Homo sapiens: one gene and its partners. The protein of the gene in region 2 interacts with the protein of the main gene of each other region in a biochemical or structural test. Each region holds a gene or a part of one and is shown on either strand. Other genes may lie near its edges.

The links.
Region 1: the proteins of YWHAB (region 2) and LRRK2 interact on a protein array, tested with the Homo sapiens proteins (2 studies listed by BioGRID and IntAct, with this or other methods).
Region 3: the proteins of YWHAB (region 2) and ZFP36 form a complex in vitro, tested with the Homo sapiens proteins (2 studies listed by BioGRID).
Region 4: the proteins of YWHAB (region 2) and TPD52L1 form a complex in vitro, tested with the Homo sapiens proteins (one study listed by IntAct).

What each region holds. Positions count from the first base shown.
Region 1 is NC_000012.12:40,318,986-40,326,011, reverse strand, and holds part of LRRK2 (leucine-rich repeat serine/threonine-protein kinase 2), read right to left. Parts: exon of another isoform or gene 6,037-7,026; intron 6,025-6,036; coding exon 5,837-6,024; intron 4,979-5,836; coding exon 4,824-4,978; intron 3,978-4,823; coding exon 3,831-3,977; intron 3,694-3,830; coding exon 3,502-3,693; intron 2,853-3,501; coding exon 2,706-2,852; intron 1-2,705. UniProt on the Homo sapiens protein: Serine/threonine-protein kinase which phosphorylates a broad range of proteins involved in multiple processes such as neuronal plasticity, innate immunity, autophagy, and vesicle trafficking.
Region 2 is NC_000020.11:44,888,679-44,895,704, reverse strand, and holds part of YWHAB (14-3-3 protein beta/alpha), read right to left. Parts: intron 1-7,026. UniProt on the Homo sapiens protein: Adapter protein implicated in the regulation of a large spectrum of both general and specialized signaling pathways. Binds to a large number of partners, usually by recognition of a phosphoserine or phosphothreonine motif.
Region 3 is NC_000019.10:39,402,438-39,409,870, forward strand, and holds ZFP36 (mRNA decay activator protein ZFP36), read left to right. Parts: upstream 1-4,409; 5' UTR 4,410-4,467; coding exon 4,468-4,491; intron 4,492-5,305; coding exon 5,306-6,262; 3' UTR 6,263-6,970; downstream 6,971-7,433. UniProt on the Homo sapiens protein: Zinc-finger RNA-binding protein that destabilizes several cytoplasmic AU-rich element (ARE)-containing mRNA transcripts by promoting their poly(A) tail removal or deadenylation, and hence provide a mechanism for attenuating protein synthesis.
Region 4 is NC_000006.12:125,156,773-125,163,798, reverse strand, and holds part of TPD52L1 (tumor protein D53), read right to left. Parts: intron 1-7,026.

The DNA of each region.
Region 1 (7,026 bases), on a different chromosome or scaffold from region 2:
CCTAACCCCTCAAATCACACCACTGAAGTGGAAATACCTGTCTTGGCTCTCCAGAAAAATAAATAGCTCCACAAAGAGGAAATGTACCCTGTGGCTTCTCAGACGCATGAACAGAATCCCATACATTTATATTTTAAAATATATTCACAAAACAAGTCTATTCATATCTATTAAGGTGGGTCGTATTACTCACTGCATAATAGTTACTGCTATCTTGGGAAAAAGAGTTACCAAAAGCCTGAATGCATTGCTGCCCTACAAATAAAAATGGAAAGAGGGAAAATTGAGAGAGGCATAACCTTCTCCAGATTACTCTAATATAAAGATGCTGGAGTCGCTACCTGTAAAATGTTTTTAGAAGGATACACCTAATTTGTTTAAATCACTGGTATTCAACCCCACCCCTTATCTTTGGCAACATCCGGAGACATTTTTGATTGTCACATCTGAGGGAAGGGGAGATACTACTGACATCTAGTGGATAGACAGAGATGCTGCCAAACATTCTGCAGTGCACAGGATGACCCTCGATAAGAAAGAGTTAGTTATCCAAGCCAAAATGGCAACAGCTCAAAGACTGAGAAACTCCTATCTAGACTGCTTTCTGTAAATGAACATGGGATTTATGGATTTATGGGACATGGGTCTAGAGAAGGGAGAGTAATCACAAACATTTTCCTATATGGGTAGCTAAACAGACTTTGCTTTTTTGTTTTTTGTTTTGTTTTGTTTTGAGACGCTCTGTCGCCTAGGCTGGAGTGCAGTGGCACAACCTCGGCTCACTGCAACCTCCGCCTCCCAGGTTCAAGCAATTCTCTGCCTCAGCCTCCCGAGTAGCTGAGATTACAGATGCCCACCACCACACCCAGTTAATTTTTTTGTATTTTTAGTAGAGATGAGGTTTCACCATCTTGGTCAGGCTGGTCTTCAACTCCTGACCTCGTGATACACCCACCTCGGCCTCCCAAAGTGCTGGGATTACAGGAGTGAGCTACTACACCTGGCCAACTAAACAGACTTTGTAAATGACGTTTCCACATACACTACTCAAAACGTGTCCATTCATCTGAAACACATTTTAATGCAGGAAAAAGAAATATTTTAGGGATCTGTGTCTGACAGTTTGGGATTTCTTCAGAGGAAGGATGCACCATGTCTGGTACTTTCCTGTATACCTTGAAGTCTGGGGTTAAGATGTAGGATTCAGCAAGGACAATTCAGCATTTTATGTTAACCCACTATTACTAATACATTAACTTCCTGAGTTCCAAAGCATTTAAATTCAACCTAAACTTCCCAATCAATGCCAATAAGAGGGGTATAAAGGAGTTTATTTAGCTTTAAATATCATGTCTCAAATTTTGGACAACTTTTTGCTAATAATATTATGTCCTGACTGACAGATCTTAGGCATTATTTCTGGGGTAATTTGATTAAAATTAAATGTATACACACAACAACAACAAAAACTAAACAAAGTAAGGTCAAAATTGTCTTCAAATGCTTTATATTAAATCAATCTAATGCATTTCATAGTTGTCCCAATGACTCTCAGGAATGTTTAAAACTTGAGTATGTCAGCCTACAGTTAATAATAACATACTGTATACTTGTAAATTGCTATGAGAGTAGATTTTAATAGTTCTCACCACATAAATATTTGAGATAATGTATATGTTAAATAGCTAAACTTCTCCATTCCACAACATATACATATATCAAAACATCATGTTGTACACCATAAATATATACAATTTTTACTTGTCAATTAAAAAAATTTGTACAAAGTATATCTTTTTTTAAAAATGATAACCGAGGAGCCAGACAGATCACAGCATCGCAGGTCTTGTAAAGACATTAGCTTTTATTCTGAGAGACATGAGAAACCACACATGTAATCTACAGAATGACATACAGTAACATATGTTGACTGTTTCTTTCCCAAAGTAGTTATAATGCATACACTTTTCATCTTCTGAAGTGTATGAGCATGTTTTAAAAACATCTTTTAGGCCCAAAAATCCATGTGCAGGAAGTCAAGATACAAATGAGAATATTGAAACATGGTTACCATGACTTCACCTTTTCTCAATGAGCACCTAAACATGCTACATGAATTCAATGATTTCCATCATACTCTACTGAAAATCACTGATTGAATTCACGGAACCAAGAAATGTAAATTGTTCAGCATATCAAAAAAAAAAAAAAAAGTATTTGAGTATGTCACCATGTAACACTTTTGACTTTAATTTCAAGGCTTTTAATGAATATTTCTATGAGAATTCAGCATTGTCACACTGAGTCATAAAACCCCTGCTATGGCTACACTGAGGTGTGCTTCCTTTACCTATTCTGTCATTTTATAAAATATGGCTGCTTCACTTAACTCACCTGAAAACTGTCTTATTTGCCTCCCATATCCCTGGCAATTAAGGCAAATACAAAGATATATTTCATAAATATTTCTGCTTCCATGATAATCTCATCCTCATCTTGATCCTAGTCTACATGATTATGTGCAAAACAAATTCCAGATCTGTAATATTATATTCCTTTAAAATATATCATTCCAAATACAAAAATTATAACAAATATATGAAGACAGTAAAATCTATGACAATATAATTATGAAATCTATTTTCTAAATTATAAGGAGAAAATTACATCCTAATTTTTATTCTCAAATTAACAAAAAGAATTACCTAGGAGAAACTCTGGAGCTTGTTCAAATTCCAACTCATCATTATTCAACATAATATTTCTAGGCAGGTCAGCCAAAATCAAGTCAGGGGCAATCTGAGATATTGGAATGGTGAGCCTTGGTTGATCTGGATTTACTAAGAGATCTCCTGAGAAGTAATAAAACATTTTTTAAATAAAAACAACATTTAAGGAGATACATAAATTTGTGGTTTTGATGTGAAAAAATAATGGAATATTTTCTATAATTTCTAATCCCTCCCTTTCTAACCAATCCTATATTTCTCTAGGAAATTTGAGAACATTTTAAAGATTCACTTAGTATCTATCTACTTGGAATTTTAAAAACTTATTCCTACGTTCACTTGTAGAATTCTGAACTGCTGCAGACTACCAGACATCTGACTAGAAAGTTATCTACTCTCTGCTTTTGCCACATTCATGAAGCTGCAGCTGTTATTATATGGCAGACATGTTGGTAAATTAGGTCCATGTATTGTCTATTTGAATCTTTATAACAGTTCTATGAGATAGATGTGGTTGGTATTCCGGTTTCACAGATGAGGTTATGTTGCTCAATAAGCCAGCATTCAAACCCTCAAATCAACATTTTCTGAATCTAGAATACAAGATTTTATTGGTAATAAATATAATTCAGTTTTCTGAACTGTCCCTATAATTGAATATACTATTTTTCAACTCATCCCTTATGGATAAGAATATTTACATTTATTAAAAGTCACTTCATAAGTATTGAAGGATCACTTAAAAGCATTTGTAAGTTGTATCAAAACATACCTTCCTCTGCTTTCTTCATCAAGTCATCAAGTAAGATTTTTTGATGTTCTTCACCATCATTAAAACTATATAATGCCCATTTCTTCAACAGAGTTTCTCCTTCACCACAAATATCAATCTCCAGCAACCCAGGAAACCATTCTTCCATGAGAGAATCAATGTGGTCCACAACTTGGCCCAAAAGAATACAGCCTACATGATTCAAAACAGAGCTCAACACCTTGTCTAAACCTCATACTGTCGCAAAGCTTTAAGGTAAAGTTTTTTTTTTTTTTAAGTTTAAATTTCTTTAGTGTTGCAATTGAAAACATTCAAATTGATTTCCTTACCTTTTCTACAAGAAGGAACTGTAATTTTTAAGAAACTCTCTGGATGATTGTCTAAGACTTCAGATCCTACCAGACAATAAGCTTCAGGAGACCAATTTAAGTAAATGCCTTGTCGCCAATACATTCTGTTTGGGCGAAGTGCTCGTTCTAAAAAATGGAGCCATTAATTATTAACTGCTTCCTAAGTTAAAGGGAAAAAATCTACTGCACACAACACAAGTGATTGTAATACAGATCTATTCATTTTGAAATAAAGTATTGGGTTGTTACTGATATGAGTCCTCATCCATATCTATTAAATATTTTATCCACAACTTTACAATAAAAAGAGTTAAATCCCCTGCACATTAAGATCCATTTCAGGTTGATGCTGTTAAGCAGTTTAATATGCTCGACAGATGAAGAAAGAAAATCATAAATAAATCCTCATAATTTTTAAAAAGAAGTTTTTGATCATGCTAAACGCAAAACTTTCTGAACTTTTTAATGCAATGTAACTACCTATATGTTGATTAATTCCAATCAAGGTAAGGTTTATTTTGGAAACCAGTAACACCTGTGTAAAGCTAATTTTAATCCCCAAAATGATATTTTCCCTTTGGAGTACCAAAATGTCTCTATTTATTTTAGAAGAAAGAGTTAGCATTATAAACACCGGATTTGCTCTTTTTTTGTAAATGTCTTAGTGGCTGTGCAACAGAAAAGAGATAATTACAGTCCCTACAATGTAATCACAGTCAAGATCTGAGTGAGCACCTAAGGAATTTTCTTCCTGACAAATTAGATGAGGTTATATGTGCTTGTGTGTCTTTAGATTGCCTACTCCAAGGTTTTATGAGCTTATTTTCTAATTCTTCAGCTGCCTTCCAAACAAGTAAACTCTGAGAAAATGGCATATTACTTTTCATATGCCATCTCCCTAATTTCTCTAAAAATTAATAAGTCTAAATTAATAGTCTCTAAAAATCTAATAAGTCTTCATTAGATACTTACCTCTCCCTGAAAGCATGTAAGGTGAAATCTCAAGTAATCGATTGATTAATCTTGACCAAAATCCCATTGGAAAATAAGGCATTTCATATAGTCGGATGATAATTTCAGAGTTCTCACAATGGGGAAGCTCTATCACAGGCCTGTGGTCAGACAAACTAAAGGCAAAAGGACACTATGGTTATACAGCCTCACAAAACACCCAACCTTGTTGAGCAAATGATTTTACTGCTTAAAGTCAATGAAGGTAATCATTCCAAACAATTGTAATCTTTTTGTAACATTGTTTCACTACATATTTTTCCTACACCAAAAATTCAGTGGTCAATAACCAATTCAAATGCATGCTCAGATGTAGATGCATGAAATATTTTCGGTAATCCCTGTGCACTAATACATAAATTATTACAATTAGTTATGCATAGACAAATGTAATCTTATATAAATCCTGAAAAATACATGTCCTAGAAAAAAAGTGTATATTTATTTTTAAAATTGGCTGCATCCATCAATCAATGTAATTTGCACATTTCAACATCATATTACTTTATAAATTTCCCAGTTGCTTAGAGCAGTAGGAAAAATTTCCATAGTATAGGCTAAAACATAGGCATCCATTGTGATGCCATAAATGCTTTTAAAATTCTGTTGAAAACTCACTATCTTCTCAGAACTTGCTTAATAAACTCTCTCAGTGTTGTTTAAGAACACACACATACACAAACACAGACACACACACACATTAATCTCCACTATTTACCTTTCTTAAATAATTTCAACAGTGATAAGCCAACTAGTAACTATACACATAAAGTAAGTGATTTACTATATTGTTAAAGTGTCAGATGCAATGTTTTATTCCAAAATAAATGATACATGTCAGTAGGAGGTTTACACTAGAAGCAAAATATATTTATTTATTTAATACATCTATTATAGACTACAGTTAGTTTGACAATTAAAAGAATAGATAGTGAATTTCCATGTAGCAATTAATTTTTTAAGGTTTTCTTTACCTGCTTGGAACCAGCAAATATTCTTCTCCTATTGGCAAAGCAATCTGGAATTTTTCTAGGAGCTTAAAATACTGTGACATGTAGTTCTTTGGAAATTTCCTTTTTTTTGAAAGAAATTTTTCCACATCTCTACGCGAAATAATGCCCTTAGGGTGTTTTGGACAACCTTCCACTTTCACTGTCAAAATCTGAAAGATTCGAGTCATAAATAATCACTAAAATTTATTTTCTGAAATGTTGCAAATTTAAAGCATTTTATGTCTCTTTGCTCAGTGAAAGTAGTCAGAAAGATTTTAGTGTTTTCAAGTGCAACACAGTACCTAATTTCTCTAGCAACCATGTGGCCTAGAAGCCCAGAGGGGCATTCACTCTCAAAAAAAAAAAAAAAATTGTTAAATTAAGGGAGTTAATTCGGATAGGAAATCATTGAACTTCACTGAAACAATGAACATCAGTATTTCCCTAGCTACAATGGAAAGATCAATCCAATACCTCACATCTGTTTTGCAGTCTCATCAATAATATATTCCCAGGAAAATTATCTTCCAGACAGTTATCAATACAGGTTTGAAATAGAAATATTACTTCACATTTATATACTAGGAGAGGACTTCCATGAATAGGAAGACAGACTGTGTAGCAGAGTTTCATGATTCTCAAAGTAACTACTGCATTTTGATGGATTCTACTTGCAGTGTCTGGGTCAGTAGGTCTGGGTTGAGGCCTGAGAATCGGCTTTTTTAAAGAGCAACCCCGATGTTTCTAACACAGAGATCACACTTTGAGCTTTGATCCTTGTCATGGCAGTTAAAAATCAGTCAGAACCCAGATTCAAATCCAGGCTCTACTACTAGCTCTGTAACCTTGGGAAAGGTATTTGATTTCTTTACTGCACAGCTTTCTTCTCTATAAAATGAGATAATAAAAGTGACTGTCTTAGATTGCCCTGAGAATGAAATAACACATGTAAAGTACGCAAAGTACATATGACAAATTTTAGCATATTTATCTATATATTCCAATTTATTTTGCTTTGTCAAATTCACTTTAAAAAGAGGTTTGTATTTAATTTTCTTTGGGAGATCTATAATGTTTAAGGAATACTTAAACAGAAGCAAACATTATTTATGCTATCATGTAGTTGAGTGAAATACCAGGTTATAAAGTCCTTAGGCCCAAGGACTTGTCTT
Region 2 (7,026 bases):
CTTGAGACCAGGAGTTCAAGACCAGCCTGGGCAACATAGTAAGACCTTGTCTCTACAAAAAATAAAATATTAGCCAGGTGTGGTGGCTCATGCCTGTGGTCCCAGCTACTTGGGAGGCTGAGATGGGAGAATCGCTTGAGGCTAGGAGGCCAGGGATGCACTGAGCCATGACTGCATCACTGCACTCCAGCCTGGGTGACAGACACCCTGTCTCAAAACAAACAAAAAATTACTCTTCCTAAATTACCTCTAGTCTTGCCTTTGTCCTTACTCAGTAACTTCCAATGACTCCCTTTTGGCTACTCCATCAAATTTAAGCTCTACCTGGCTTTCAAATTCCTGATAAATTGTCTCCTCTTTACTTGTTTGGCTTTCTCATCCACTGTTCTCCAACATGTACCTTTCTCTCAGGCTGGCCAGCACCACATGCCCTATAAACACAATGCTCAAACGTGTCTGAAACTGCTTTTGTAGTTCCCTTCATCTAGAGTGCTCTCCTATTTACTGCCTGCCTATCTGAACTCCACCCATTCTTCTAGGGCTACAAACCCTTCCCTGACTGCCCTAGCCCTCACTGATTTACCTTGCCTATGACTCTGAATATACTTATAGCCTATTACATGGTCTAGGACTTCTTTATGCCATTCTGTGATACAGATGAGTACTGTACCACTTACAGCTTCACGTGTGTGCCCTCAAAGGAAAGCTTCATGTTTGTTTCACATTTAATGCTTATAACTGTGCTAAGCACAAAACTCATATGCAAATGAATATCAAGTTTTTCTACAAATCATTATTGGGAGAGCACAAGGAACACAGAGTACCTATATGTAGTATAGTCGGAAGGCAGCAGGACTGTGTGTCACAGCGCAATGTGCCACTATACAGCCATGTGAGCATGTTAAATCTCAGCCTTCCAATCCATAAAATGAAGATGGCATCTACCTCAGTAGAGTTGCTGTGAAGATGAGGCGCAGGGAATTAAAGAATACTAAATGTGGAAATCTTCCTTGAAAAATGCATAGTGCAAAATCAAACTGAAGTACTATTATTCTTCTCCACGACTATTACACTGTAGCAGCCCATAAAACCATAAGCTTGAATTTTCTTTTTAAATATACAATTTTGTGAGAAGGAAAAGCAAAAGTCTAGATTAATCTTGTACAGATAGTTAGTATGTTATGTTAAAATGGACATATATGTTAAATGTAACTGAAGTTTATCCATTAGTTTCTAATTGAATTTTCTAGTGATATGCCATGATGGTTTTTAATCAAGACCTACTGTTGTTCCAAGACTTTGAATGAGGTTCCCACTAAAAAAAAAGTCAGCAAGATACTCTTTATTTGTCTCCTAAAAAGTTTTTGAAAGACTATAGTCTCATCGTCAGGCCTGGCACCACTGCAGAAGCATCAAGATACTGGCGCAGGCAAACTCATTAGAGGCCACAAAAGGCCCAACCCTGCAGTAAGCCAAGAGATTTTCCTTGTGCTGGGCATATTTCAGGAAGAGACTGACGTGCTTGAGAACAGGAGCTCTCCAGCACACCTATATGATGATGATGGCTGTCAATCTGTTCTAAGCCACTGGATGCAGCAAGTCAGGACTGGGAAGCATTTGTTGATAAACGCAGAGATTGCTTAGTGAAAAAATGGAAGCAAATCTAAATATCCAACAATATGGGAATGGTTTAAAAAATAAGGAGACTGGCCAGGTGCACTGGCTTACGTGTGTAATCCCAGCACTTTGGGAGGCCAAGGCAGGCAGATCACCTGAAGTCAGGAGTTCGAGACCAGCGTGGCCAATGTGGTGAAACCCCGTTTCTACTAAAAATACAAAAAAATTAGCCGGGGTGGTGTATGACTGTAATCCCAGCTACTCGGGAGGCTGAGGCAGGATAATCACTTGAACCCAGGAGGTGGAGGTTGCAGTGAGCCGAAACTGCGCCACTACACTCCAGCCTGGGCGACAAGAGCGAAACTCCGTCTCAAAAAAAAAAAAAAAAAAAAAGGCAGGGGAGGGAAGGAGATAGATGGTACAAGATTACGTGGCCATCAAAAGAAGAGATTTAATGTCATGAAAAGATTTATTTAAGAGCAATGGGGGCTGGAGGGACGAGGCTGCACAATATTTTATTTCTGTAAAATATCCCCTAAAGAACAAACAAACCCGAACAGAAAGGTTACACCAAATGGTTAACACTGGTTCTGTCTCTGGGTAATAACATTATTATATCCTCATTTTCCTATCTTTTTAAATTTTCTTCAAGTATGTATTACTTTTTTAAAAATTGGGTACTATTTCTTTTTTTAAGAAAAAAAGTGTTTTTCTGTTTAAAGAGAAACCACTAGTGCAGATAAACAGCTATGAAAAATAATTCTAAAGGTACTCACAAAATAGGATTTTCTTCAAAGAAACAAAATCCTAAATCAGATAATAAATGCTGAAAATAGAGGATCTAGGAAACAGCCTAGCCCCTCTATCCCAATTCCTTCCCCAAGGGACATCTTTCTAGTCAGGGTCAAAATACTGAGAAGTTATTTCCCAGTGGCTAGAGCAGATATCCTAGGAGAAGAATCAAAAAAGAAAGAAAGAAAAGAAAAAGAAGACTACCTACTGCTAATCCATTTTTTTTTAAATAAAGGCAGTGCAAAGACAGAAAGGGTTGAAAATGACAGCTGTGGCCTTTAGAAGCACTGGCTTTCAGCTATGTTTTGTTTTCAAGGCAAAGAACATGCTCGATTCGAAAATAATAAGCTTTGAATTTAATAATTTGTTAGAAATTTCAGATGAAGACTCCATTATTATATGTCAGGAATTACCCAAGCTCTATACATATAAAATATACGGTGGGGTCTGCTTTTAGCAAGCCTTACATACACATCTGAGCTTCTAAAGAGAAAGTAGGTGATTTTTCTACATTTCCACATTATAACTTACCTGAATCTGTTTTCTCAGTGTTAAAAAGAGACATTAATAGCTATCAAATAAGATAATGAACATAAAATGCCCATATAGTGCTGGTTAGAGTAAAGGCTCATAAGCCATTCTTATTTTTTATTCTTAAGCTACCTCACAAAAATGTAACACATATAATCCAATGTGTGTTGAAATAACTAACAAAATGAAAAACTACCAAATTTCTAAGAACTCTTTGGATTATTCATTGAGAGGAATTTAAAAGAAAGCAGTGTAGTCCTCCCCTCAGAGAGCTTAAACTCTAGTGGTAGAAACACAAGAAAAGAGCACATGTATATCTATTACACATCAATTAAAAAAAAAAACAGCACACGTTTAAGGGTTACAATGCCTCTCCTTAGAAAGCCAACCAGACAGAACTAGAGGAAATAGGTTTAAAGGTAGCTAGGTCGTGACTTAAAAAGAGATGTTATTAATAAAGTGCATGTATGTTTTTCTAGATGAGATAAAAATCAAAGGCCAAAGCAGATAAAGAAATGAGAATAAGGAAGAAAACTGACAAGAAAATCTGAAAAATCTAGGCTCGAATGTTTCAATGGGGTAAGGAACTGATCACATATTCTGAACAGCATTCACAGATGTACCATTCCAGATAGAGCATCCACAGCACTGTACAGCAGAAGTTTTAGTTCTGGAGTCTCTCTGCTGAAGAAAAATCAGATGCCAAGCTACTGCAGAAGGGACTGAGAAAGTCAGTGGGACCAGGTGGTTAGTGGGTGTTACCCAGAAAAAGTTAAACACTCCTGGCTCTCAGAGAAAACTACTCACTAAAAAACACCCACTATAAAACTGTCTGTGTGCCATTCTACATATAAAATTTAGAGTCCTGTAATAAATTTAATTCCATTCAAACATTTGCAGGTTCTTTGTTAGGAAACAAAACACAGCATATCTGTAATACAAAGTCATTAGCACTAAGTCCAGTGAACACTGAATTTGGAGAGAAACTGCATTTCTATTATTTCAAAATCCCTTCCCTCTTTCACATCAGCTGTTGCATATCATTGCTAATTATGTCCAATTAGCCATGATTAAACTTACTGAGGGTGTTAAGTGACAGGCGCAAGGTTACACATGTGACTTAATGGTAGATATGACAATAAATTGACTTCTTGGCTTAAGTAATCAATCCAAAAGACACTATGTTAATTCTGATCCATAAAGACAGCCCAATTGGTTGACCTTATGAATAATTTCTACAGTTTGGGGCCCACTGACATAATGAAGCCTATCAGTCTGATTTACCAGTACCGCACACCAAGTCCACAGGCTATGTGACCTCTGTGAATTTGTTTTCTCATCCATAATACAGGCAAATCTGGGCTGGGCGTGGTGGCTCACGCCTGTAATCCCAGCACTCTGGGAGGCCGAGGAGGGTGATCACTTGAGGTCAGGAGTTCAAGACCAGCCTGGCCAACATGGTGAAACCCCGTCTCTACTAAATATATAAAAAAATTAGCCGGGTATAGTGGCAGGCGCCTGTAATCCCAGCTAATTGGGAGGCTGAGGCAGCCTGAAGGCAGAGGCTGCAGTGAGCTGAGATCACGCCACTGCACTCCAGCCTAGGCGACAGAGCAAGACTCTGTGAAGAAAAAAAAAAACATAGGCAAATCTACTTACTAGGGTTCCTGTAAGGAGTAAACCTGTTTATGATATAAAACAGTAAGCACTCAAATAAATGGCAACCACAGTACATTCCACACAAAACTTAAAAAACCAATGGTCAGCCAGTGAAGGGAAACTTACTATGTACCTCATTTATTTTACACGTACTCTGCTTTCTTTAAAGACTTTTAAAAGAAAGGCACATAACAATTTCCCTATGCTTATTTCTAAAATGGCCCTTATCACAGTTTACTGCAATGCAAGTGTCTCTGCTGGCTCCCACACCGGATTGTGAGCTTAAAGTAGGAATCCAGCCAGGCGTGGTGGCTCACGCCTGTAATCCCAGCACTTTGGGAGGCCGAGGCAGGTGGATCGCAAGGTCAGGAGTTCAAGACCAGCCTGGCCAAGATGGCGAAACCCTGTCTCTACTAAAAATACAAAAATTAGCTGGGCGCAGTGGCAGGCGCCTGTAATCCCAGCTACTCAGGAGGCTGAGGCAGGAGAATTGCTTGAACCCGGGCTTCAGAGGTTGCAGTGAGCCAAGATCGTGCCACTGCACTCCAGCCTGGGTGACAGAGTGAGACTCCATCTCACAAAAAAAAAAAAAAAAAAAAAAAAAAGTAGGAATCCAGACTTGTATCTTTGGACACCCAATGTGGAGTACAAGGCCTAGCACACTGAGTGACTGCTTGATCAACTGATGCATTCTTAAAAAGTGAAAAAGCAATTATTTCCTACGTGGACAGAGGAAGGTAGCACACATCTGACCTATAAAATACAGACTGTTTTTATTGTCTTAGACTACTTTTTGAAAAAAGCCAGCCAGCTCTCATCAGGAGCAACACTATACATTTTGACTAATATTTTTCAGCTACCAATCATTGTATTTATAGATTCAAACTGACTTTCAACAAGCCTTTGGATTACTTTCTGTCCATCTCCTCCATTCAGAAGTCCAATCAGTTCGCTATACAAAAAGTTCACTATACAGAAACCCAAACCAGCTAACTCGTTTAGTAAATAACAAAAATATCCATCCATCATTTATGGCCTGCAAAGCACTCAGGGATTCCTAGAAACGCATTTGATCCTAAGTATCCTATGAGGCAGGTGACATTGTCCCGTTTTATAAATGCAAAGAGTTAACTCATTCAGGGTCACACAGCTATATATGGCAGATCTGGGATCTAAACCAACATTAATTTTAAAATTAATGCTCTTTCCTTTATGTAACCCTATCTCCTAAAGATCAATTATGAACTCCAATGCTCACTTAAGGAAAAGAGAGAATTGTCAACTTTTAAAAGAACTATACAAGGTTGTTACAGTGAAATTTTAAAACTGGCCTATTAAGCTAATGTTATCTAGCTTTAAAAATAAAAACAAAATCAAGGAGTTAAAAACAGCATAAAAACATGCCAAAGACTTACCAAAATGTCAAACAAATTTTAAAGGAAAGCTCTTAGCTGAGGGCAAATAATAATAATAGACAGGACTCATATCTACTTTATTGTAGCCTTCAATCTTCTTGTCCTGGTCAAGGCCATTCAGAAATAACCTCCTGTTGGTTCTTTTAGGGAAAACAATAAAATAAACTAACCAGTACGGGAAAAACTTACATAATAAAGAACTGGCCAGAATTTAAAAAAAAAAAAAAAGTTAACTAACCTACAATCTGCTAGGAATGACTTGAGGCCACTGATCATTTACATCTCATTACAAGTATCAGATACATATAACCACACCTCTATTAGAAAATCTTTTAGTTGAGAAAGCAGTAAGATGATTGGCCTTCAGCACACATATCATGAGACAGAAAGCACTTTTAGTCTGTTTCCTCAAGTATTCCCCTTAGAAAAATTCCCTCAGAATCCAGCTCCAACCGTTAGTTTCTCCATCATGCAATACAGATGACTGCTAAGATCATATTCACATAGAGATCAAAAGGATTCTAAAGCTTAAAGGTTGCTATTATGTAACCATAATTTCTTGCCCCTTAACTAGTGAATTGTCATCTTTCCCTAGAAAAATGTAGAAACAAGGAACTTAAAAGTATCTCTACAAGGAAATTTTAGTTCATTCTCTAAGGTACCAGCATTTAAAGGAAAACTCAGTTTGTTGACACCGAAAGAGCAGGTAGCACAACAGGATGTTTTAATTTAGAAGTTTCTCTCTATTTACGTAGATATATTTCCTCATTTCCTCCCTGCCAACAAAATGAGAAAAATCTGAACATCTACTGATGAAGTCGTAAGATAAACAAAAATTAATGGTCACAATCAAATTCTATTAGATGAAGAACCTAAAATTCTATGCCAAAGTAACTGATGACTTTCTCCCTAGTATGAAGCAAGTACTAGAAAAACTGGATTGTTCACAAGCTTGCTTCCTGATGCATGCTAGCAATTATCATCCCTACAGGCCAGAATGGGTATATGCTCC
Region 3 (7,433 bases), on a different chromosome or scaffold from region 2:
CCCTCACGTTCCCCCACTGCATACCCAGGCACACAGGCTCTCGCAGCCCCAGATGCCAAGGCGCACACCTTTGCACCCGCAAGCACACATACTGTTCACACAACCGGGTACACATGACGGCTAGCCCAGGCCCGCCGCCCACGCAGTCGCAGGCCAGGGTACACACGGCCAGCGCCGCCCTTGGCCACGCCCGCTCAGGCCCAGGCAATCGCGCCAGGCGCACACACGGCGCGAGCACACGTGCCGCGGGTACACGATCCCCAGCTCGCCCGCGCACTCGGCCAGCTCTCACACCCCCGCGTTTCCCGTCCCCGCTTGTTTTTCTGGAAACTCTGCTCTCCCCTCCCCTCCCCCTAGGCCGGAAGTGTTGGCTGTATTTTTAGCCTCTCTGGTTTCCGCCCCTTTCCTTCTTTCCCCGCCCGCCCAGGACTGGCCCCAGCGCCCCGCGGGGGGACCCCGGCCATCCCCTTCCCCACCGTCATTCCAGAGGGGATTCCCGGCCGCCGCTGGGGCCGCGGATTTTCCCGCTGGCTACGTAGGGAGCAGGGAGGAGTCCTGCCATGAACTTCCTTCTGGCCTGGGACGCCCGAGATCTGAGGGGAGGGCTGAGGGCCTGGTCTCCTGGATCTGATCGAGGACAGGCTGGGGGTCTCCCGGGTCTGAGGGAGGAGGAGTTAGGGGCCTGAACCGCTGGATCTGAGGGAGGAGGAGATGGGGGCCTGGACCCCTGGGTCTGAGGGAGGAGGGGCTGGGGTCTCGGGGGACCTGAGGATCTGAGGGAGGAGGGGCTGGAGGCCTGGACCCCTGGGTCTGAGGGAGGGGGGGTTGGGAGTCTCCCGGGTCTGAAGGAGGAGGAGTTAGGGGCCTGGACCCCTGGATCTGAGGGAGGAGGAGCTGGGGGCCTGGACCCCTGGTTCCGAGGGAGGAGGGGCTGGGGGCCTGGACCCCTGGATCCGAGGGAGGGGGGTGCTGGGGGCCTGGAGTCCTGGGTCTGAGGGAGGAGGGGCTGGGGACCCAGGGCCCTGGGTTACTGCGAGGGAGGAGGGACTGAGGCCTTGGCTCCTGGGTCCCCCAGGTCTGTGGGTTTGGGGAGGTGGAGGACCAGTCCTTCTGCGAGCAAAGCATCCCCCTCCTTTGAGAGTGGCCCTATCCCAAAAGTCCTGACTCTTGGGGCCGATGACTCAGCAGATGGGAGAGAGGAGGGGGACAGCCTGACTCAGGGATGGGAAATGCTCCCGGTCTCCAGGGAGTAGAAACTGGAATCCCTCCTCCAGGATTGATCGCAGCCCGAGCTGAGCCGGGCTCCGCGAACCCAAGGATGCCCCCAACCCCCCTTTCCCCGCCTCAATCCTTTAAGCTGCGTAAGGATTTGGAGATCGGCCTAGAGGCGGGTCCCAGGTCCCCCTCCTCCCCCCTTTTTCCCCGTTGTCCTCAAGGCTCTGTTTACAGGAGACGGGAGCCCTGGTTACAGGAGAGGAACCCGAGTGTCCGGGCTGAACCTCCTCGTCACGGCTTCCAGGAAGCCCCCACTCCCCCGCCCCTTGCGAGTGAGTCACGGGCGAGCAGGAGGCCACAACCGTGCCAGAGCCGCCCGCGGCCCGCCCAGCTCACGAGACCGGCCCGGGAAGGCCCCTCAGCAAGCGCCGCACCAGGGATTCCCCCCCGCCGCTCTCGGACGAAGCAGGTCGACGTGGAGCCTGGCAGAATCTCCCCACCTTAATACAAGCCCGCAGCCTGCAAGAATGAACTTTCCACCATTATAACTGCGCACTGTGGCAATGATTTCTACCCCCACATTTTCACTCAGGGCATCCAGCTCTCCAGCACCCCTTAGAAAATAGTCTTCCTAGATCTTAAGAGGGTTTTCACTTAGGGCGACCCTTTGATAACAAAAGATGTGCCAGTGTGGGGAATGATCCTTGAAAATGTAGTCTGGGCGGGGTGCGGTGGCTCACACCTGTAATCCCAGCACTTTAAGAGGCCGAGGCAGGTGGATCACCTGAGGTCAGGAGTTCGTGACCAGCCTGACTAACATGGTGAAACCCCCGTCTCTACTAAAAATACAAAAATTAGCTGGGCGTGGTGGCCGGCGCCTGTAATCCCAGCTACTCGGGAGGCTGAGGCAGGAGAATCACGTGAACCCGGGAGGCAGAGGCTGCAGTGAGCTGAGACCGCGCCATTGCACTCCAGCCTGGGCAACAAAAACGAAACTCCATCTCAAAAAAGAAAAAAAAAAGGAGGCCCGGCCGGCTTGGTGGCTCACACCTGTAATCCCACCACTTTGGGAGGCCGAGGCGGGTTGATCACGGAGGTCAGGAGATCGAGACCACCCTGGCTAACACGGTGAAACCCCGTCTCTACTAAAAATACAAAAAATTAGCCAGGCGTGGTGGTGGGTGCCTGTAGTCCCAGCTGCTCGGGAGGCTGAGGCAGGAGAATGCGTGAACCCGGGAGGTGGAGCTTGCAGTGAGCCGACATCGCGCCATTGCACTCCAGCCTGGGTGAAAGAGCGCGACTCCGTCTCAAAAAAAAAAAAGGAAAATGTAGTCTGAAGGCACACCCCACTATAAGAGACCCATCCAGCCATCAACTGAGGATGACCTTTTTTTTTTTTTTTGAAAGCTTTTTTCAATCAATGCAACCATCAGTTATAGTGAAAGACCTCCACCTTGCCAATCTTGAGTTTTCTCAGAGGGCAAACCTCGACATAATTTCAGACCCTAGTATGAGGCCTGTGCCATTTGCTAGCTCGAACTAGGAGAGTAACTTTATTTTTCCCCCTGAGAGGGAGTCTCGCTCTGTGGCCCAGGCTGGAGTGCAGTCGCCTGATCTCGGCTCATTGCAACCTCTGCCTCCTGGGTTCAAGCGACTCTCCCACCCCAGCCTGCTCCCTCCCCGCCCCCGAGTAGCGGGACCACAGGGTGTGCGCCACCACACTCAGCTAATTTTTGCATTTTTGTAGAAATGGGGATTCGCCGTGTTGCCCAGGCTAGTCTCAGACTCCGAGCTCTAGTGATCCGCCTGCCTTGGGCGCCCAAAGTGCTAGGACTACAGGTGTGAGCCGGGCAGGAGAGTAACTTCACTTTGGTTTCCTCCTGCCTTAAATGGGCATACCACCTGGCATTAGGATTAATGTGCGTAAAGTACTTAGAACTCAGCCCAGGTGAGTTCTCCTTAACTCAGCCTAGAAGAGATCATCCGCCCGAGGGTGAGGGGGCTAGAGCCGCCCTGTGAATTGGGAAAGGAGGCCCCTTTTCAGCCTTGCCAGGTATCCTGGACCCCACCCAACCCACTCACTCACCCACCCAACCCCAGCAAGTGGGGAGAGGGAGAGCAGTCCAGGTCTCCTTATCTGTCTGGGCTGTTTAGGAGTGAGACCACACAAGGCAGGCAGTTCTCAGAGAATTCCCCTCCAAGGCCTGCTGGCTCTTTCTTGGCACTTTGCTCTGCAGATTTCTTTCCGTAAGTGCTTATTTCTCACAGTCTTTCTCCTTTTTGTCCAGTTTCTTTTTCTTTTTAATTTTTTTAAATAGTATTTTTTGTAGACATGGGATCTCACTGTTGCCCAGGCTGATCTTGAACTCCTGATCTCAGGTAATCCACCTGCCTCATCCTCTGAAAGTACTGGGATTGGCCGGGCTTGGTGGCTCACACCTGTAATTCCAGCTCTTTGGGAGGCGGAGGTGGGAGGATCGCTTGAGCCCCGGAGCTGGAGATTAGCCTGGGCAACATAGGGAAACCCCGTCTTTCAAAAAAAAAAAAAAAGAAGAAGAAAAAGGAAAGAAAAACACAAAAAGTGCTGGGATCACAGGTGTGAGCCACTGCGCTCAGCCCCTTTCTGTTTCTTTTTGTGATCCTCCCAACCCTCTTCTCCCTCTGAATCTGTCTCTGGGACTGTCTCTGTCTCCCCGTCTTCCCTCCCTTCCTCACCCTGTCTATCTCTCTCTGTATGTCTCTTGGTGTGTGTGTCTCTCTCGATGTTTTTCTCTCTGCCTGTCTGCCTGTCTGTACCCCTCTGCGTCTCTCCCCGCCCCCATCCGTCTGTGTCGCACGCGCACCCCCATCGGGCTTCTGCTCTTGTCAATTGCCCCTGGGGCCCTGCCCCCACCTCCGCCCCAGTTTCCTTCTACAAGCCTCAGTCTCCAGCTTTGAAAACTGGGCAGGCGTCCCCCCATCCGCACCCCCACCCCTTCCCCACGCATTCCCCGCTCGGTCACGGCTGTCCACCGGCCAAGCTCAGGCGCGTCCTGGCCCAGGGCCGGGCGGAAGGGAACCAGTCCAGGGCCAGCCAGGCTGCGCCGGGGGCGCGCGTCCGGGAAGCGCCCCTCCTGCCCCGCCCCCGGCCCCGGCCCCGGCCCCGCCCCGTGCTTGCAGTTTCCTATAAGTAGCCGGCTCTCGGTGCCAGCCTCAGCCTGACTTCAGCGCTCCCACTCTCGGCCGACACCCCTCATGGCCAACCGTTACACCATGGATCTGACTGCCATCTACGAGGTGAGTCCCCGCCGCACGGCATCCCCGGTACCTGCATGCCTGAGTCCGAGTCCCCACCTCTCTAGCGCCGCAAACTCCAGCCCGGGACGCTTGCCTCCCTTCTCCAACTGGGGCTCCCTAGCGCCGCGCCCTCCAGCCTGGGGCCCCTGCCTCCCGCTCAGACCAGCTTGGTGATTTGGAGGTGAAAATGGAACCCGCGACACCCGGCTCTTCGCTCAAACATGGGTGGGGCGGCCCATGCAAGTGGAAAGTCGGAGAACTTTTCTCAGACCGAGGCTGCCTGGAGGCGGAAGTGGCCCCCATACCTGGCTCACCCCTAGTCGTTGCTGAGGGCGTGGTTTTGCGCGGAGGCGTCTCTGGGGCTGAAGTCTCAGGGTGGGGGGATCCGACTTCTGTCTCTCCAGTCCCTGACCGTAGAGACAGAGAACCCTAAAACCGAAGCAATCCGGACTTCCAGGTCAACTTTGCCCGGTTTCTCCAGTTGTGAAACTGGAGATCCCGACGCGTGGGTCATATCCGGGGAGGACAAGAGACCCAAAATTGGGAAACAGTGGTGCGCCCTGACTTCGGGGTCCCCCTCTTGGTCCAGCCGGGGAAGCCGGGATTCCTGGGTCCCTCGGGATAAGGCCTCGGTGGTGGGTAAACTCAGAACCTCCAACTCTGGGTTCCTGGCATCCGGAACCCAGGGGTTTCTGCGGGCGGGTGGGGCTCAGGCGGGGAGCCCACAAACCGGCCTGGCAAGCTCTAGTTCCCTGCAGCTGGGGTGGGGCGTCGCCCTGCATTTTCAGGTGCCTTAACCGACCCATTTCCGCAGAGCCTCCTGTCGCTGAGCCCTGACGTGCCCGTGCCATCCGACCATGGAGGGACTGAGTCCAGCCCAGGCTGGGGCTCCTCGGGACCCTGGAGCCTGAGCCCCTCCGACTCCAGCCCGTCTGGGGTCACCTCCCGCCTGCCTGGCCGCTCCACCAGCCTAGTGGAGGGCCGCAGCTGTGGCTGGGTGCCCCCACCCCCTGGCTTCGCACCGCTGGCTCCCCGCCTGGGCCCTGAGCTGTCACCCTCACCCACTTCGCCCACTGCAACCTCCACCACCCCCTCGCGCTACAAGACTGAGCTATGTCGGACCTTCTCAGAGAGTGGGCGCTGCCGCTACGGGGCCAAGTGCCAGTTTGCCCATGGCCTGGGCGAGCTGCGCCAGGCCAATCGCCACCCCAAATACAAGACGGAACTCTGTCACAAGTTCTACCTCCAGGGCCGCTGCCCCTACGGCTCTCGCTGCCACTTCATCCACAACCCTAGCGAAGACCTGGCGGCCCCGGGCCACCCTCCTGTGCTTCGCCAGAGCATCAGCTTCTCCGGCCTGCCCTCTGGCCGCCGGACCTCACCACCACCACCAGGCCTGGCCGGCCCTTCCCTGTCCTCCAGCTCCTTCTCGCCCTCCAGCTCCCCACCACCACCTGGGGACCTTCCACTGTCACCCTCTGCCTTCTCTGCTGCCCCTGGCACCCCCCTGGCTCGAAGAGACCCCACCCCAGTCTGTTGCCCCTCCTGCCGAAGGGCCACTCCTATCAGCGTCTGGGGGCCCTTGGGTGGCCTGGTTCGGACCCCCTCTGTACAGTCCCTGGGATCCGACCCTGATGAATATGCCAGCAGCGGCAGCAGCCTGGGGGGCTCTGACTCTCCCGTCTTCGAGGCGGGAGTTTTTGCACCACCCCAGCCCGTGGCAGCCCCCCGGCGACTCCCCATCTTCAATCGCATCTCTGTTTCTGAGTGACAAAGTGACTGCCCGGTCAGATCAGCTGGATCTCAGCGGGGAGCCACGTCTCTTGCACTGTGGTCTCTGCATGGACCCCAGGGCTGTGGGGACTTGGGGGACAGTAATCAAGTAATCCCCTTTTCCAGAATGCATTAACCCACTCCCCTGACCTCACGCTGGGGCAGGTCCCCAAGTGTGCAAGCTCAGTATTCATGATGGTGGGGGATGGAGTGTCTTCCGAGGTTCTTGGGGGAAAAAAAATTGTAGCATATTTAAGGGAGGCAATGAACCCTCTCCCCCACCTCTTCCCTGCCCAAATCTGTCTCCTAGAATCTTATGTGCTGTGAATAATAGGCCTTCACTGCCCCTCCAGTTTTTATAGACCTGAGGTTCCAGTGTCTCCTGGTAACTGGAACCTCTCCTGAGGGGGAATCCTGGTGCTCAAATTACCCTCCAAAAGCAAGTAGCCAAAGCCGTTGCCAAACCCCACCCATAAATCAATGGGCCCTTTATTTATGACGACTTTATTTATTCTAATATGATTTTATAGTATTTATATATATTGGGTCGTCTGCTTCCCTTGTATTTTTCTTCCTTTTTTTGTAATATTGAAAACGACGATATAATTATTATAAGTAGACTATAATATATTTAGTAATATATATTATTACCTTAAAAGTCTATTTTTGTGTTTTGGGCATTTTTAAATAAACAATCTGAGTGTAAGCTGGGATCCTGGCTTCTTCGCGGTCTAGAGACAGGAATGGAGAGGGAGGGGGTGACTTTTTGGAAGCTGGGTGCAGTTAACTCTTCCTCTCCGAGCCCCGCGGCGCTTACCTGGCAGGAAGTGACGTCACCGGGCCTGGCCGTTCACCTGAAAGGGTGGGACCAGGTGAGGTCACCAGATGGGAACCGGGGGAGCCAGTTCCCGGGCGTCGGGGGCGCCGCGCTCCCGTCCTGCTGGGCTCCTTGACCCAGCTTCGGGCGGGTGCGGTCGGGGACGGGATGTTTCCGTCCCCACGGGGCCGCGGGAGGCGGGAGGGGCCGGGTGGGGAGGACGGAATGTGCTGGGGCGCGCGCCCAGAGCGAGCGGGGGCGGGCGCGGGGCGGGGCAGCCTGGGGTAGCGGAACCCGTTTCGGGACTAGAGGTTCCGGGGGGGCTTCGACACCTTCTGGATGTTGGGGAAGC
Region 4 (7,026 bases), on a different chromosome or scaffold from region 2:
ATTACAGGTGCCCGCCAGCTAATTTTTGTATTTTTAGTAGAGAGGGGGTTTCACGATGTTGATCAGGCTGGTCTTGAGCTCCTGACCTCAGGTGATCCGCCCACCTCAGGCTCCCAAAATGCTGAGATTACAGGTATAAGCCACCACGCCCGGCCTGTTGTACTTATTAAATAACATGTTTGGAGTTTTTTGTTTTTGTTCTTTTTTTTTTTTTTTAGACAGGGTGTCACTTTGTCCAGCCCAGGCTAGAGTGCAATGATGCAATCATAGCTCACTGCAACCTCAAACTCCTGGGCTCAAGCAATCCTCCCACCTCAGCCTCCCAAGTAGCTGGGAATACATGCATGCATCACCATGCCCAATTTACTTCTTTATTTTTTGTAGAAGCAGGGTTTTGCTATGTTGTCTGGGCTGGTCTTGAACTCCTGGGCTCAAGTGATCCTCCCGTCTTGGCCTCCCAAAGTACCAGGAGCCACTGCACCTGACTAAATAACATGCTTTTTAAAAAAGTGCATGCCATGGTATTTGACATTTGTAAAAACACTAAAATGTTATTGCTATTATCACCCTCAATGTGAATTAGCTCTAATTAGCACATTAGCACTCAAAAAATCCCATTGGGATGGAAATATGTCCTCTCATTAGTTCTAGGTGTTAACCCACAGGAACGACTCTCAACTCTTTTTTGCCTATCCTCCTGAAAAGATGACACCATGTCAAGTTCATCTTAGCTTCCCCTTTGCACGTGTGGCACAGCACACATTAAGGCACAGTGCAGTATAGTAGTTAAGCTCATTCTCTGGACTCAATTAAACTTGGAGTTGAATCCTGTCTTCTTCATTTAATTTTTCTGACTCGTAGTTCCCTGTTTATAAAATGAGTTAAAAGTAAAGGTATCTACCTCATGATGTTATTATAAGGTTTTGATAAAATAATGGATGCAAAGTTTTCAGCATATGCTAATAAAAGCAACAGCAAACATTTATATACTACTTACCATGTGCTAGGCCCTGCTTTAAGCACTTTGCTTGTATTAACATGTTAAATCCCCATAACAATCCTATGATATTGGAGCTATTACTATCTTCACTTTGCATATGTAGAAACCAAGATTGAGTGAAATGAATAACTTGTTCATGGTCATATTAATGGTAAGTAACATGTCAGAATTAAAATCCAGGCAGTTTACCTTCATCCTGGGATCTTAATCACTATGCCCTTTTCCCTCCCAATAGTATGTGCTTGTCAAATATTTGCTATTACTGCAGTAATCAATAAGTATTTATTAAAATATTTAATGAATCAATATCTGCTGAAGTATTTGTTTATTATTTACTATAAATTACTAAGTAGCACATCTTCTTATAGGCCACAAAAATGGACTCCTTTGCTTATAAGTTTTTGAAGAAATTCTCAGATTCTGCCTACCCAGATAATTAATAAGGTGTATAACAGGGAAGGCAATTCAAAATATGTTCCCATCTACTACAACAGCTGCCATTTGTATAATTAGATTTTAAAATAATTTAAAATAAAACAGTGGTATATGATTTGTTGCAAATGACTGACTTCACCTAAAATATGCATCATCACCTATTTCAAAACCTTTACTTAAACAGGAAACAAAACTACAGGAGGTAACTTTGAAAATTGTATGAATAGTCTTAATAATACTCTTAAAAATCATAAATCAAAATATATAACAGCTTGCTTCCATAGTTTGAGGTTTATTATTATATTGCCTAAACTTCAATACAAAATTTTAAATATGAAACATAAAATGCAAAATAATTTTTTCCTTGGATAATTTAATAGTTAGAGACATACCTCACTGCACTTCACTTTATTGTACCTCACAGATATTATTTTTACAAATTGAAGGTTTGTGGCAACCCCAGGTTGTGCAAGTCTATTGGTGCCATTTTTCCAACATGGGCTCATGTCATGTCTCTGTGTCACATTTTAGTAACTCTCACAATATTTCAAACTTTTCCATTATTATTAAATCGGTTATGGTGATCTGTGATTGGTGATCTTTGATGTTACCATCAGAATTGTTTTGGAGAACCATGAACTATGCCCATATAAGATGGTGACCTTAACCAGTAAATCCTGTGTGTGTTCTGACTGCTCCACCAGCCACCCATTTCCCTATCTCTCTCCCTGTCCCTGGCCCTCTCCACTCTCTGAGACACAACAATATTGATAGTATGCCAATTAACCCTATAATAGTCTCTAAGTATTCAAGTGAAACATAGAGACACAAATCTCTCACCTTAAGTCAAAAGCTAGAAATGATTAAACTTAGCAAGGAAGGCACAGTGAAAGCCAAGATAGATCAAAAGCAGGCCTCTTGATTCAAGTTGTGAATGTGAAGGAAAAGTTCTTGAAAGAAACGTAGCATGCTATTCCACTGAACACACAAATGATAAGAAAGTGAAATAGACTAATTGCTGATAGGGAGAAAGTTTGAGTGGTCTGGATAGATCAAACCAGCCACAACATTTCTTTAAGTGAAAATCTAATCCAGAGAAGGTCCTAAGTCTCTTCAATTTATGAAGGCTGAGAGAAATGAGAAAGCTGTGCAACAAAAGTTGGAAGCTAGCAGAGATTTGTTCATGAGGTTTAAGGAAAGAAGTCATCTCAGGCCTGGCATGGTGGCTCATGCCTGTAATCCCAGCACTTTGGGAGGCTGAGGCAGGTGGATCACCTTAGGTCAGGAGTTCCAGACCAGCCTGGACAACATGGTGAAACCCCATCTCTACTAAAAACACAAAAATTAGCAGGGCGTGGTGGCACGCACCTGTAATCCCTGCTATTCAGGAAGCGGAGGCAGGAGAATTTGCTTGAACCCAGGAGGTGAAGGTTGCAGTGAGCCAAGATCGTGCCACTGCACTCCAGCCTGGGTGACAGAGCAAGACTCCATCTCAAAAAAAAAAAAAAAAAAAGTCATCTCTGTAACATAAAAGTGCAAGGTGAAGCAGCAAGGGCTGTTGCCAAAGCTGCAGCAAGCTCTCCAGAAGATCTGGCTAAGATAGTTGATGAAAGTGGCTAAACTAAACAACACATTTTCATATAGATGAAACAGCCTTACACTGGAAGAAGATGTCAGCTAGGACTTTTATAGCTAGAGAGGAGGAGTCGATGCTTGGCTTCAAAACTTCAAAGTACAGGCTGACTCTCTTGTTAGGGGCTAATGTAGCTGGTGACTTTAAGTTACATGCTCACTTACTATTCAAAAAGTTCTAAGGCCCTTATGAATTATTCTAACTGTAACCAGATGCAGTGGCTCATGACTGTAATCCCAACACTTTGTGAGGCCAAGGCAGGAGGATTGCTTGAGCCCAGGAGTTCAAGGTGTCAGTGAGCTATGATGATCCCACTGTACTTCAGCCTAGGCAACCGAGCAAGACCTTTCATCTATGAAAATGCAAATACAAATAAATAAATAATTATTCTAAATCTATAGATTTAGAAAATGTGCTCTATAAATAGAATAACAAAGCCTGGGTAACTGTTTACAATATGGTTTCTTGAATATTTTAAGTCCACTATTAAGAACTACTGCTCAGAAAAAAAATATTTCTTTCTGAATATTACTTCTGGTTGATAACACACCTGTATTAGTCCATTCTTATGCTGCTAATAAAGACATACCCGAGACTAGGAAATTTGTAAAGAAAAAGAGGTTTAATGGACTCACAGTTCCGCATGGCTGGGGAGGCCTCACAATCATGATGGAAGGCACATCTCACATGGTGGCAGGCAAGAGGACATACTCAGGGGAACTCCCCTTTATAAAACCATCATGTCTCGTGAGACTTGCTATCATGAGAACAGCATGGGAAAGACCGGCACCTATGATTCAATTACCTCCCAATGGCTCCCTCCCATGACATGTGGGAATTATGGGAGCTACAATTCAAGATGAGATTTGGGTGGGGACACAGCCAAACAATATCATACGTGGTCACCCAAGAGTTCTGATGGAGATGTACAAAGAGATTAACATTGCTCACACGTCTACTAACACAACATCCACTCTTCAGCTTGTGGATCAGGGAGTAATTTTGACTTTCAAGTCGTATTATTTAAGAAATACATCTCATAAGAAAACAGCTGCCATAGATAGTGATTTTTTTGTTGGAACTAGGCAAAATAAATTGAAAACATTCTGGAAAGGATTCACCATTCTAGATGTCATTAAGAACATTCGTAATTCATGGGAGGTGGTCAAAATATCAACATTAACAGGAGTTTGGAAGATGTGGACTCCAACCCTCCTGAATGAGTTTGAGGTGTCCAAGATGTCAGTGGAGGAAATGAAGTGCAGATGTGGTAGAAACAGCAAAAGAAGCAGAAGTGGAGCCTGAAGATGTAACTAAATTTATGACATTTTAATCTCATGCTAAAACTTGAATGAATGAGGTGTTGCTTCTTATGGATGAGCAAAGAGTGGTTTCTTGAGATGGAATCTACTCCCAGTGAAGATGTTCACAGCACTGTGTAAATGACAACAAAGGATTTAGAATTATATAAATTTAGTCGATAAAGCAGTGGCAGGGCTTGAGAGGATTGATTCCAATATTGAAAGAAGTTCTATCGCAGACAAAATGCTACCAAACAGCATTACAGGCTATATATAAATCTTCTTGAAAGGAATAGTCAATCTATGTGACAAACTTCCTCGTTGTCTTACTTTAATAAATTGCCACAGCCACCTCAGCCTTCGGCAACCACCATTCGGATCAGTCAGCAGCCATCGACATCCAGGCAAGACCCTCCACCAGTAAAACACTTACCACTCAGTGAAGGCACAAATGATCGTTAGCAATTTTTAGCAAAAAGTATCTTTTACATAAAGGTATGTACCTTTTCTTAGATAGCATGCTATTGCACATTTAACAAACTACAGTATAGTATAAACATAACTTTTATATGCACTAGAAAACCAAAAAACGTGTGTGACTCGCTGTATTCCAATATTCACTTCTTTGGGGTGATCTGGAACTGAACCCACACTATCTCCAAGGTATGCCTGTATAAGAGACTGGACCTGCTGCTGTTTGACAGAAGGAAGAATGGTTCTTTTATCATTTTATAACAAAATGCCATACTTCCTTTATAAAGTAAGAATTTATCTTCCATGCAATATCAATAAAAGTAATGTGATTATATTCATTTTTCTAGAGCTTCATCCCTTGCTTCCTTTTCTCTTCTTATCCTCATTTATTTTCTTTCATCTATTTTTAATTTACATTATCTTGTTGCATTTCAAGTATCCATATAAACTGCCTTATGTACTTCCTGAAACAAGATAAAATTATATAAATGTTCTGTGAGCAAAGTATAATGTAAGGTATAAAGTATAATGTAAAGTATAATGTATAATGTAGAATGTATACTTATAATGTAAGTATAAAGTATAATGTAAAGTATAATGACATTTTCATTTAAAGGACTTTGCAAACAGTAGGGTTAATCTGATATTTATTGCTTTATTTCATTCATGGACATCTGAGACTCTTCTTGAGTGGATATAAAAAATAGTTATTATAGTAAACTGAATGATGGCCCCTAAATATATCCTAATTCCTGGAACCTGGAAATGTTACCTTTTGCAGGTGTGATTAAGTTAAAGGTCTTGAGAGAGAGAGAGATTATCCTGGATTATCTAGGTAGGTGCTAAATGAAATCACAAGTGTCCTTATAAGAGAGAGGCAGAGGGAGGTTTGATGCGAACAGAACAGAAAGCAGCATAACCACGGAGACAGAGAGATTGGAGTGATGCAGCCCAAGAATGTCGGCAGCCACCAGGAACTGAAAGAGGGAAAGACGATTTCTTTCTTAGAGCCTCCAGAGGAAGGACAGCGCTGCCGACACCTTGATTTCAGCCTAGTGATAGTGCCTTTGGAATTCTAACCGCCAAACAATGAGACAGCACATGTTAATTGTTTTAGGCCACGAAGTTTGTGGTAATTTTTACAGTGGCCTTGAGAAACTAACATAGTTATTAATTTGAATATATGCAAATGTTAAAAGGAGACAGTTTTCCTTGTAACATTAAAGACGTTGGGAAAGGTGAAAACAACAAAGTTATTTCCATTTAGAATAATAAAATATTGAAGGGTAGTTTAAAAGGATCAGGAAGTTTTTATTTTAAAGGACTACTGTATGTTTCGGGAAAATGCTACATTTCCAACCCAATTCCCTCTCTAACATATCAGTTGTCTTAAAGCAAAATTATCTGGTACCAGAGGAAAGCAAATAGGAATGCCATTCTCCTGTGGACATCTCTCTCCACGTTGTTCTCCAGCCCTCCTCAGTGAACAGCTCCACCCATAATCCCACTTCCTGTTTAGTGTCCTACCACCTCCCCTGAGAGTCCTCTTGTTTTGCTGGAAGTAATCTATTATTTTACAAAGTCAAAGAACATATTTGCATAATTTCACTTATGGGAAAGTTTCTAGTGCAGTAAGTTGCTGCACTTACTGAGCTATATGGGCGAATCATGTCCATAACACCTTGGTGTCTTCCTGGACAATATGAGGTACAACTCATCAGCAACTGCCTGCTTAATCTCACTTATCTTTACCTGTCTCTAGATTAGCAGGCAGAAAGACAAGCCATCTCCACTCTAGGTAATTCTAAAATAAACTGTGCTGAAGGTGGAAACTTACACTTTAAAAATCACAGAACTGTCTTATCTAGAATCTAAGAGGCAAATCATTCATTTAGCCAGAAAAAATGTGCAAGTGGAAAAAAGATTTCCCTTTAATATATGCTATAAACAGTTTGTGAGAAGTTTTTTCTTAAATAACTCAATATCTCTGCTTTATAAATAACAAAAAGTCTGAAAATGAAAATCTTAAAATGCTAGGCAAATAAAGATTTAAGAGGTAATTATCCTCCATTTGATTGTACAAGTAGGAAGCTGGTCATCCTTGACACTGCCCTCCTTCACATTCAATCCAATTTTGACTTTTCTTAAGTTTTTTTGTTGTTATTCTCTTTTTGTTTATCTGT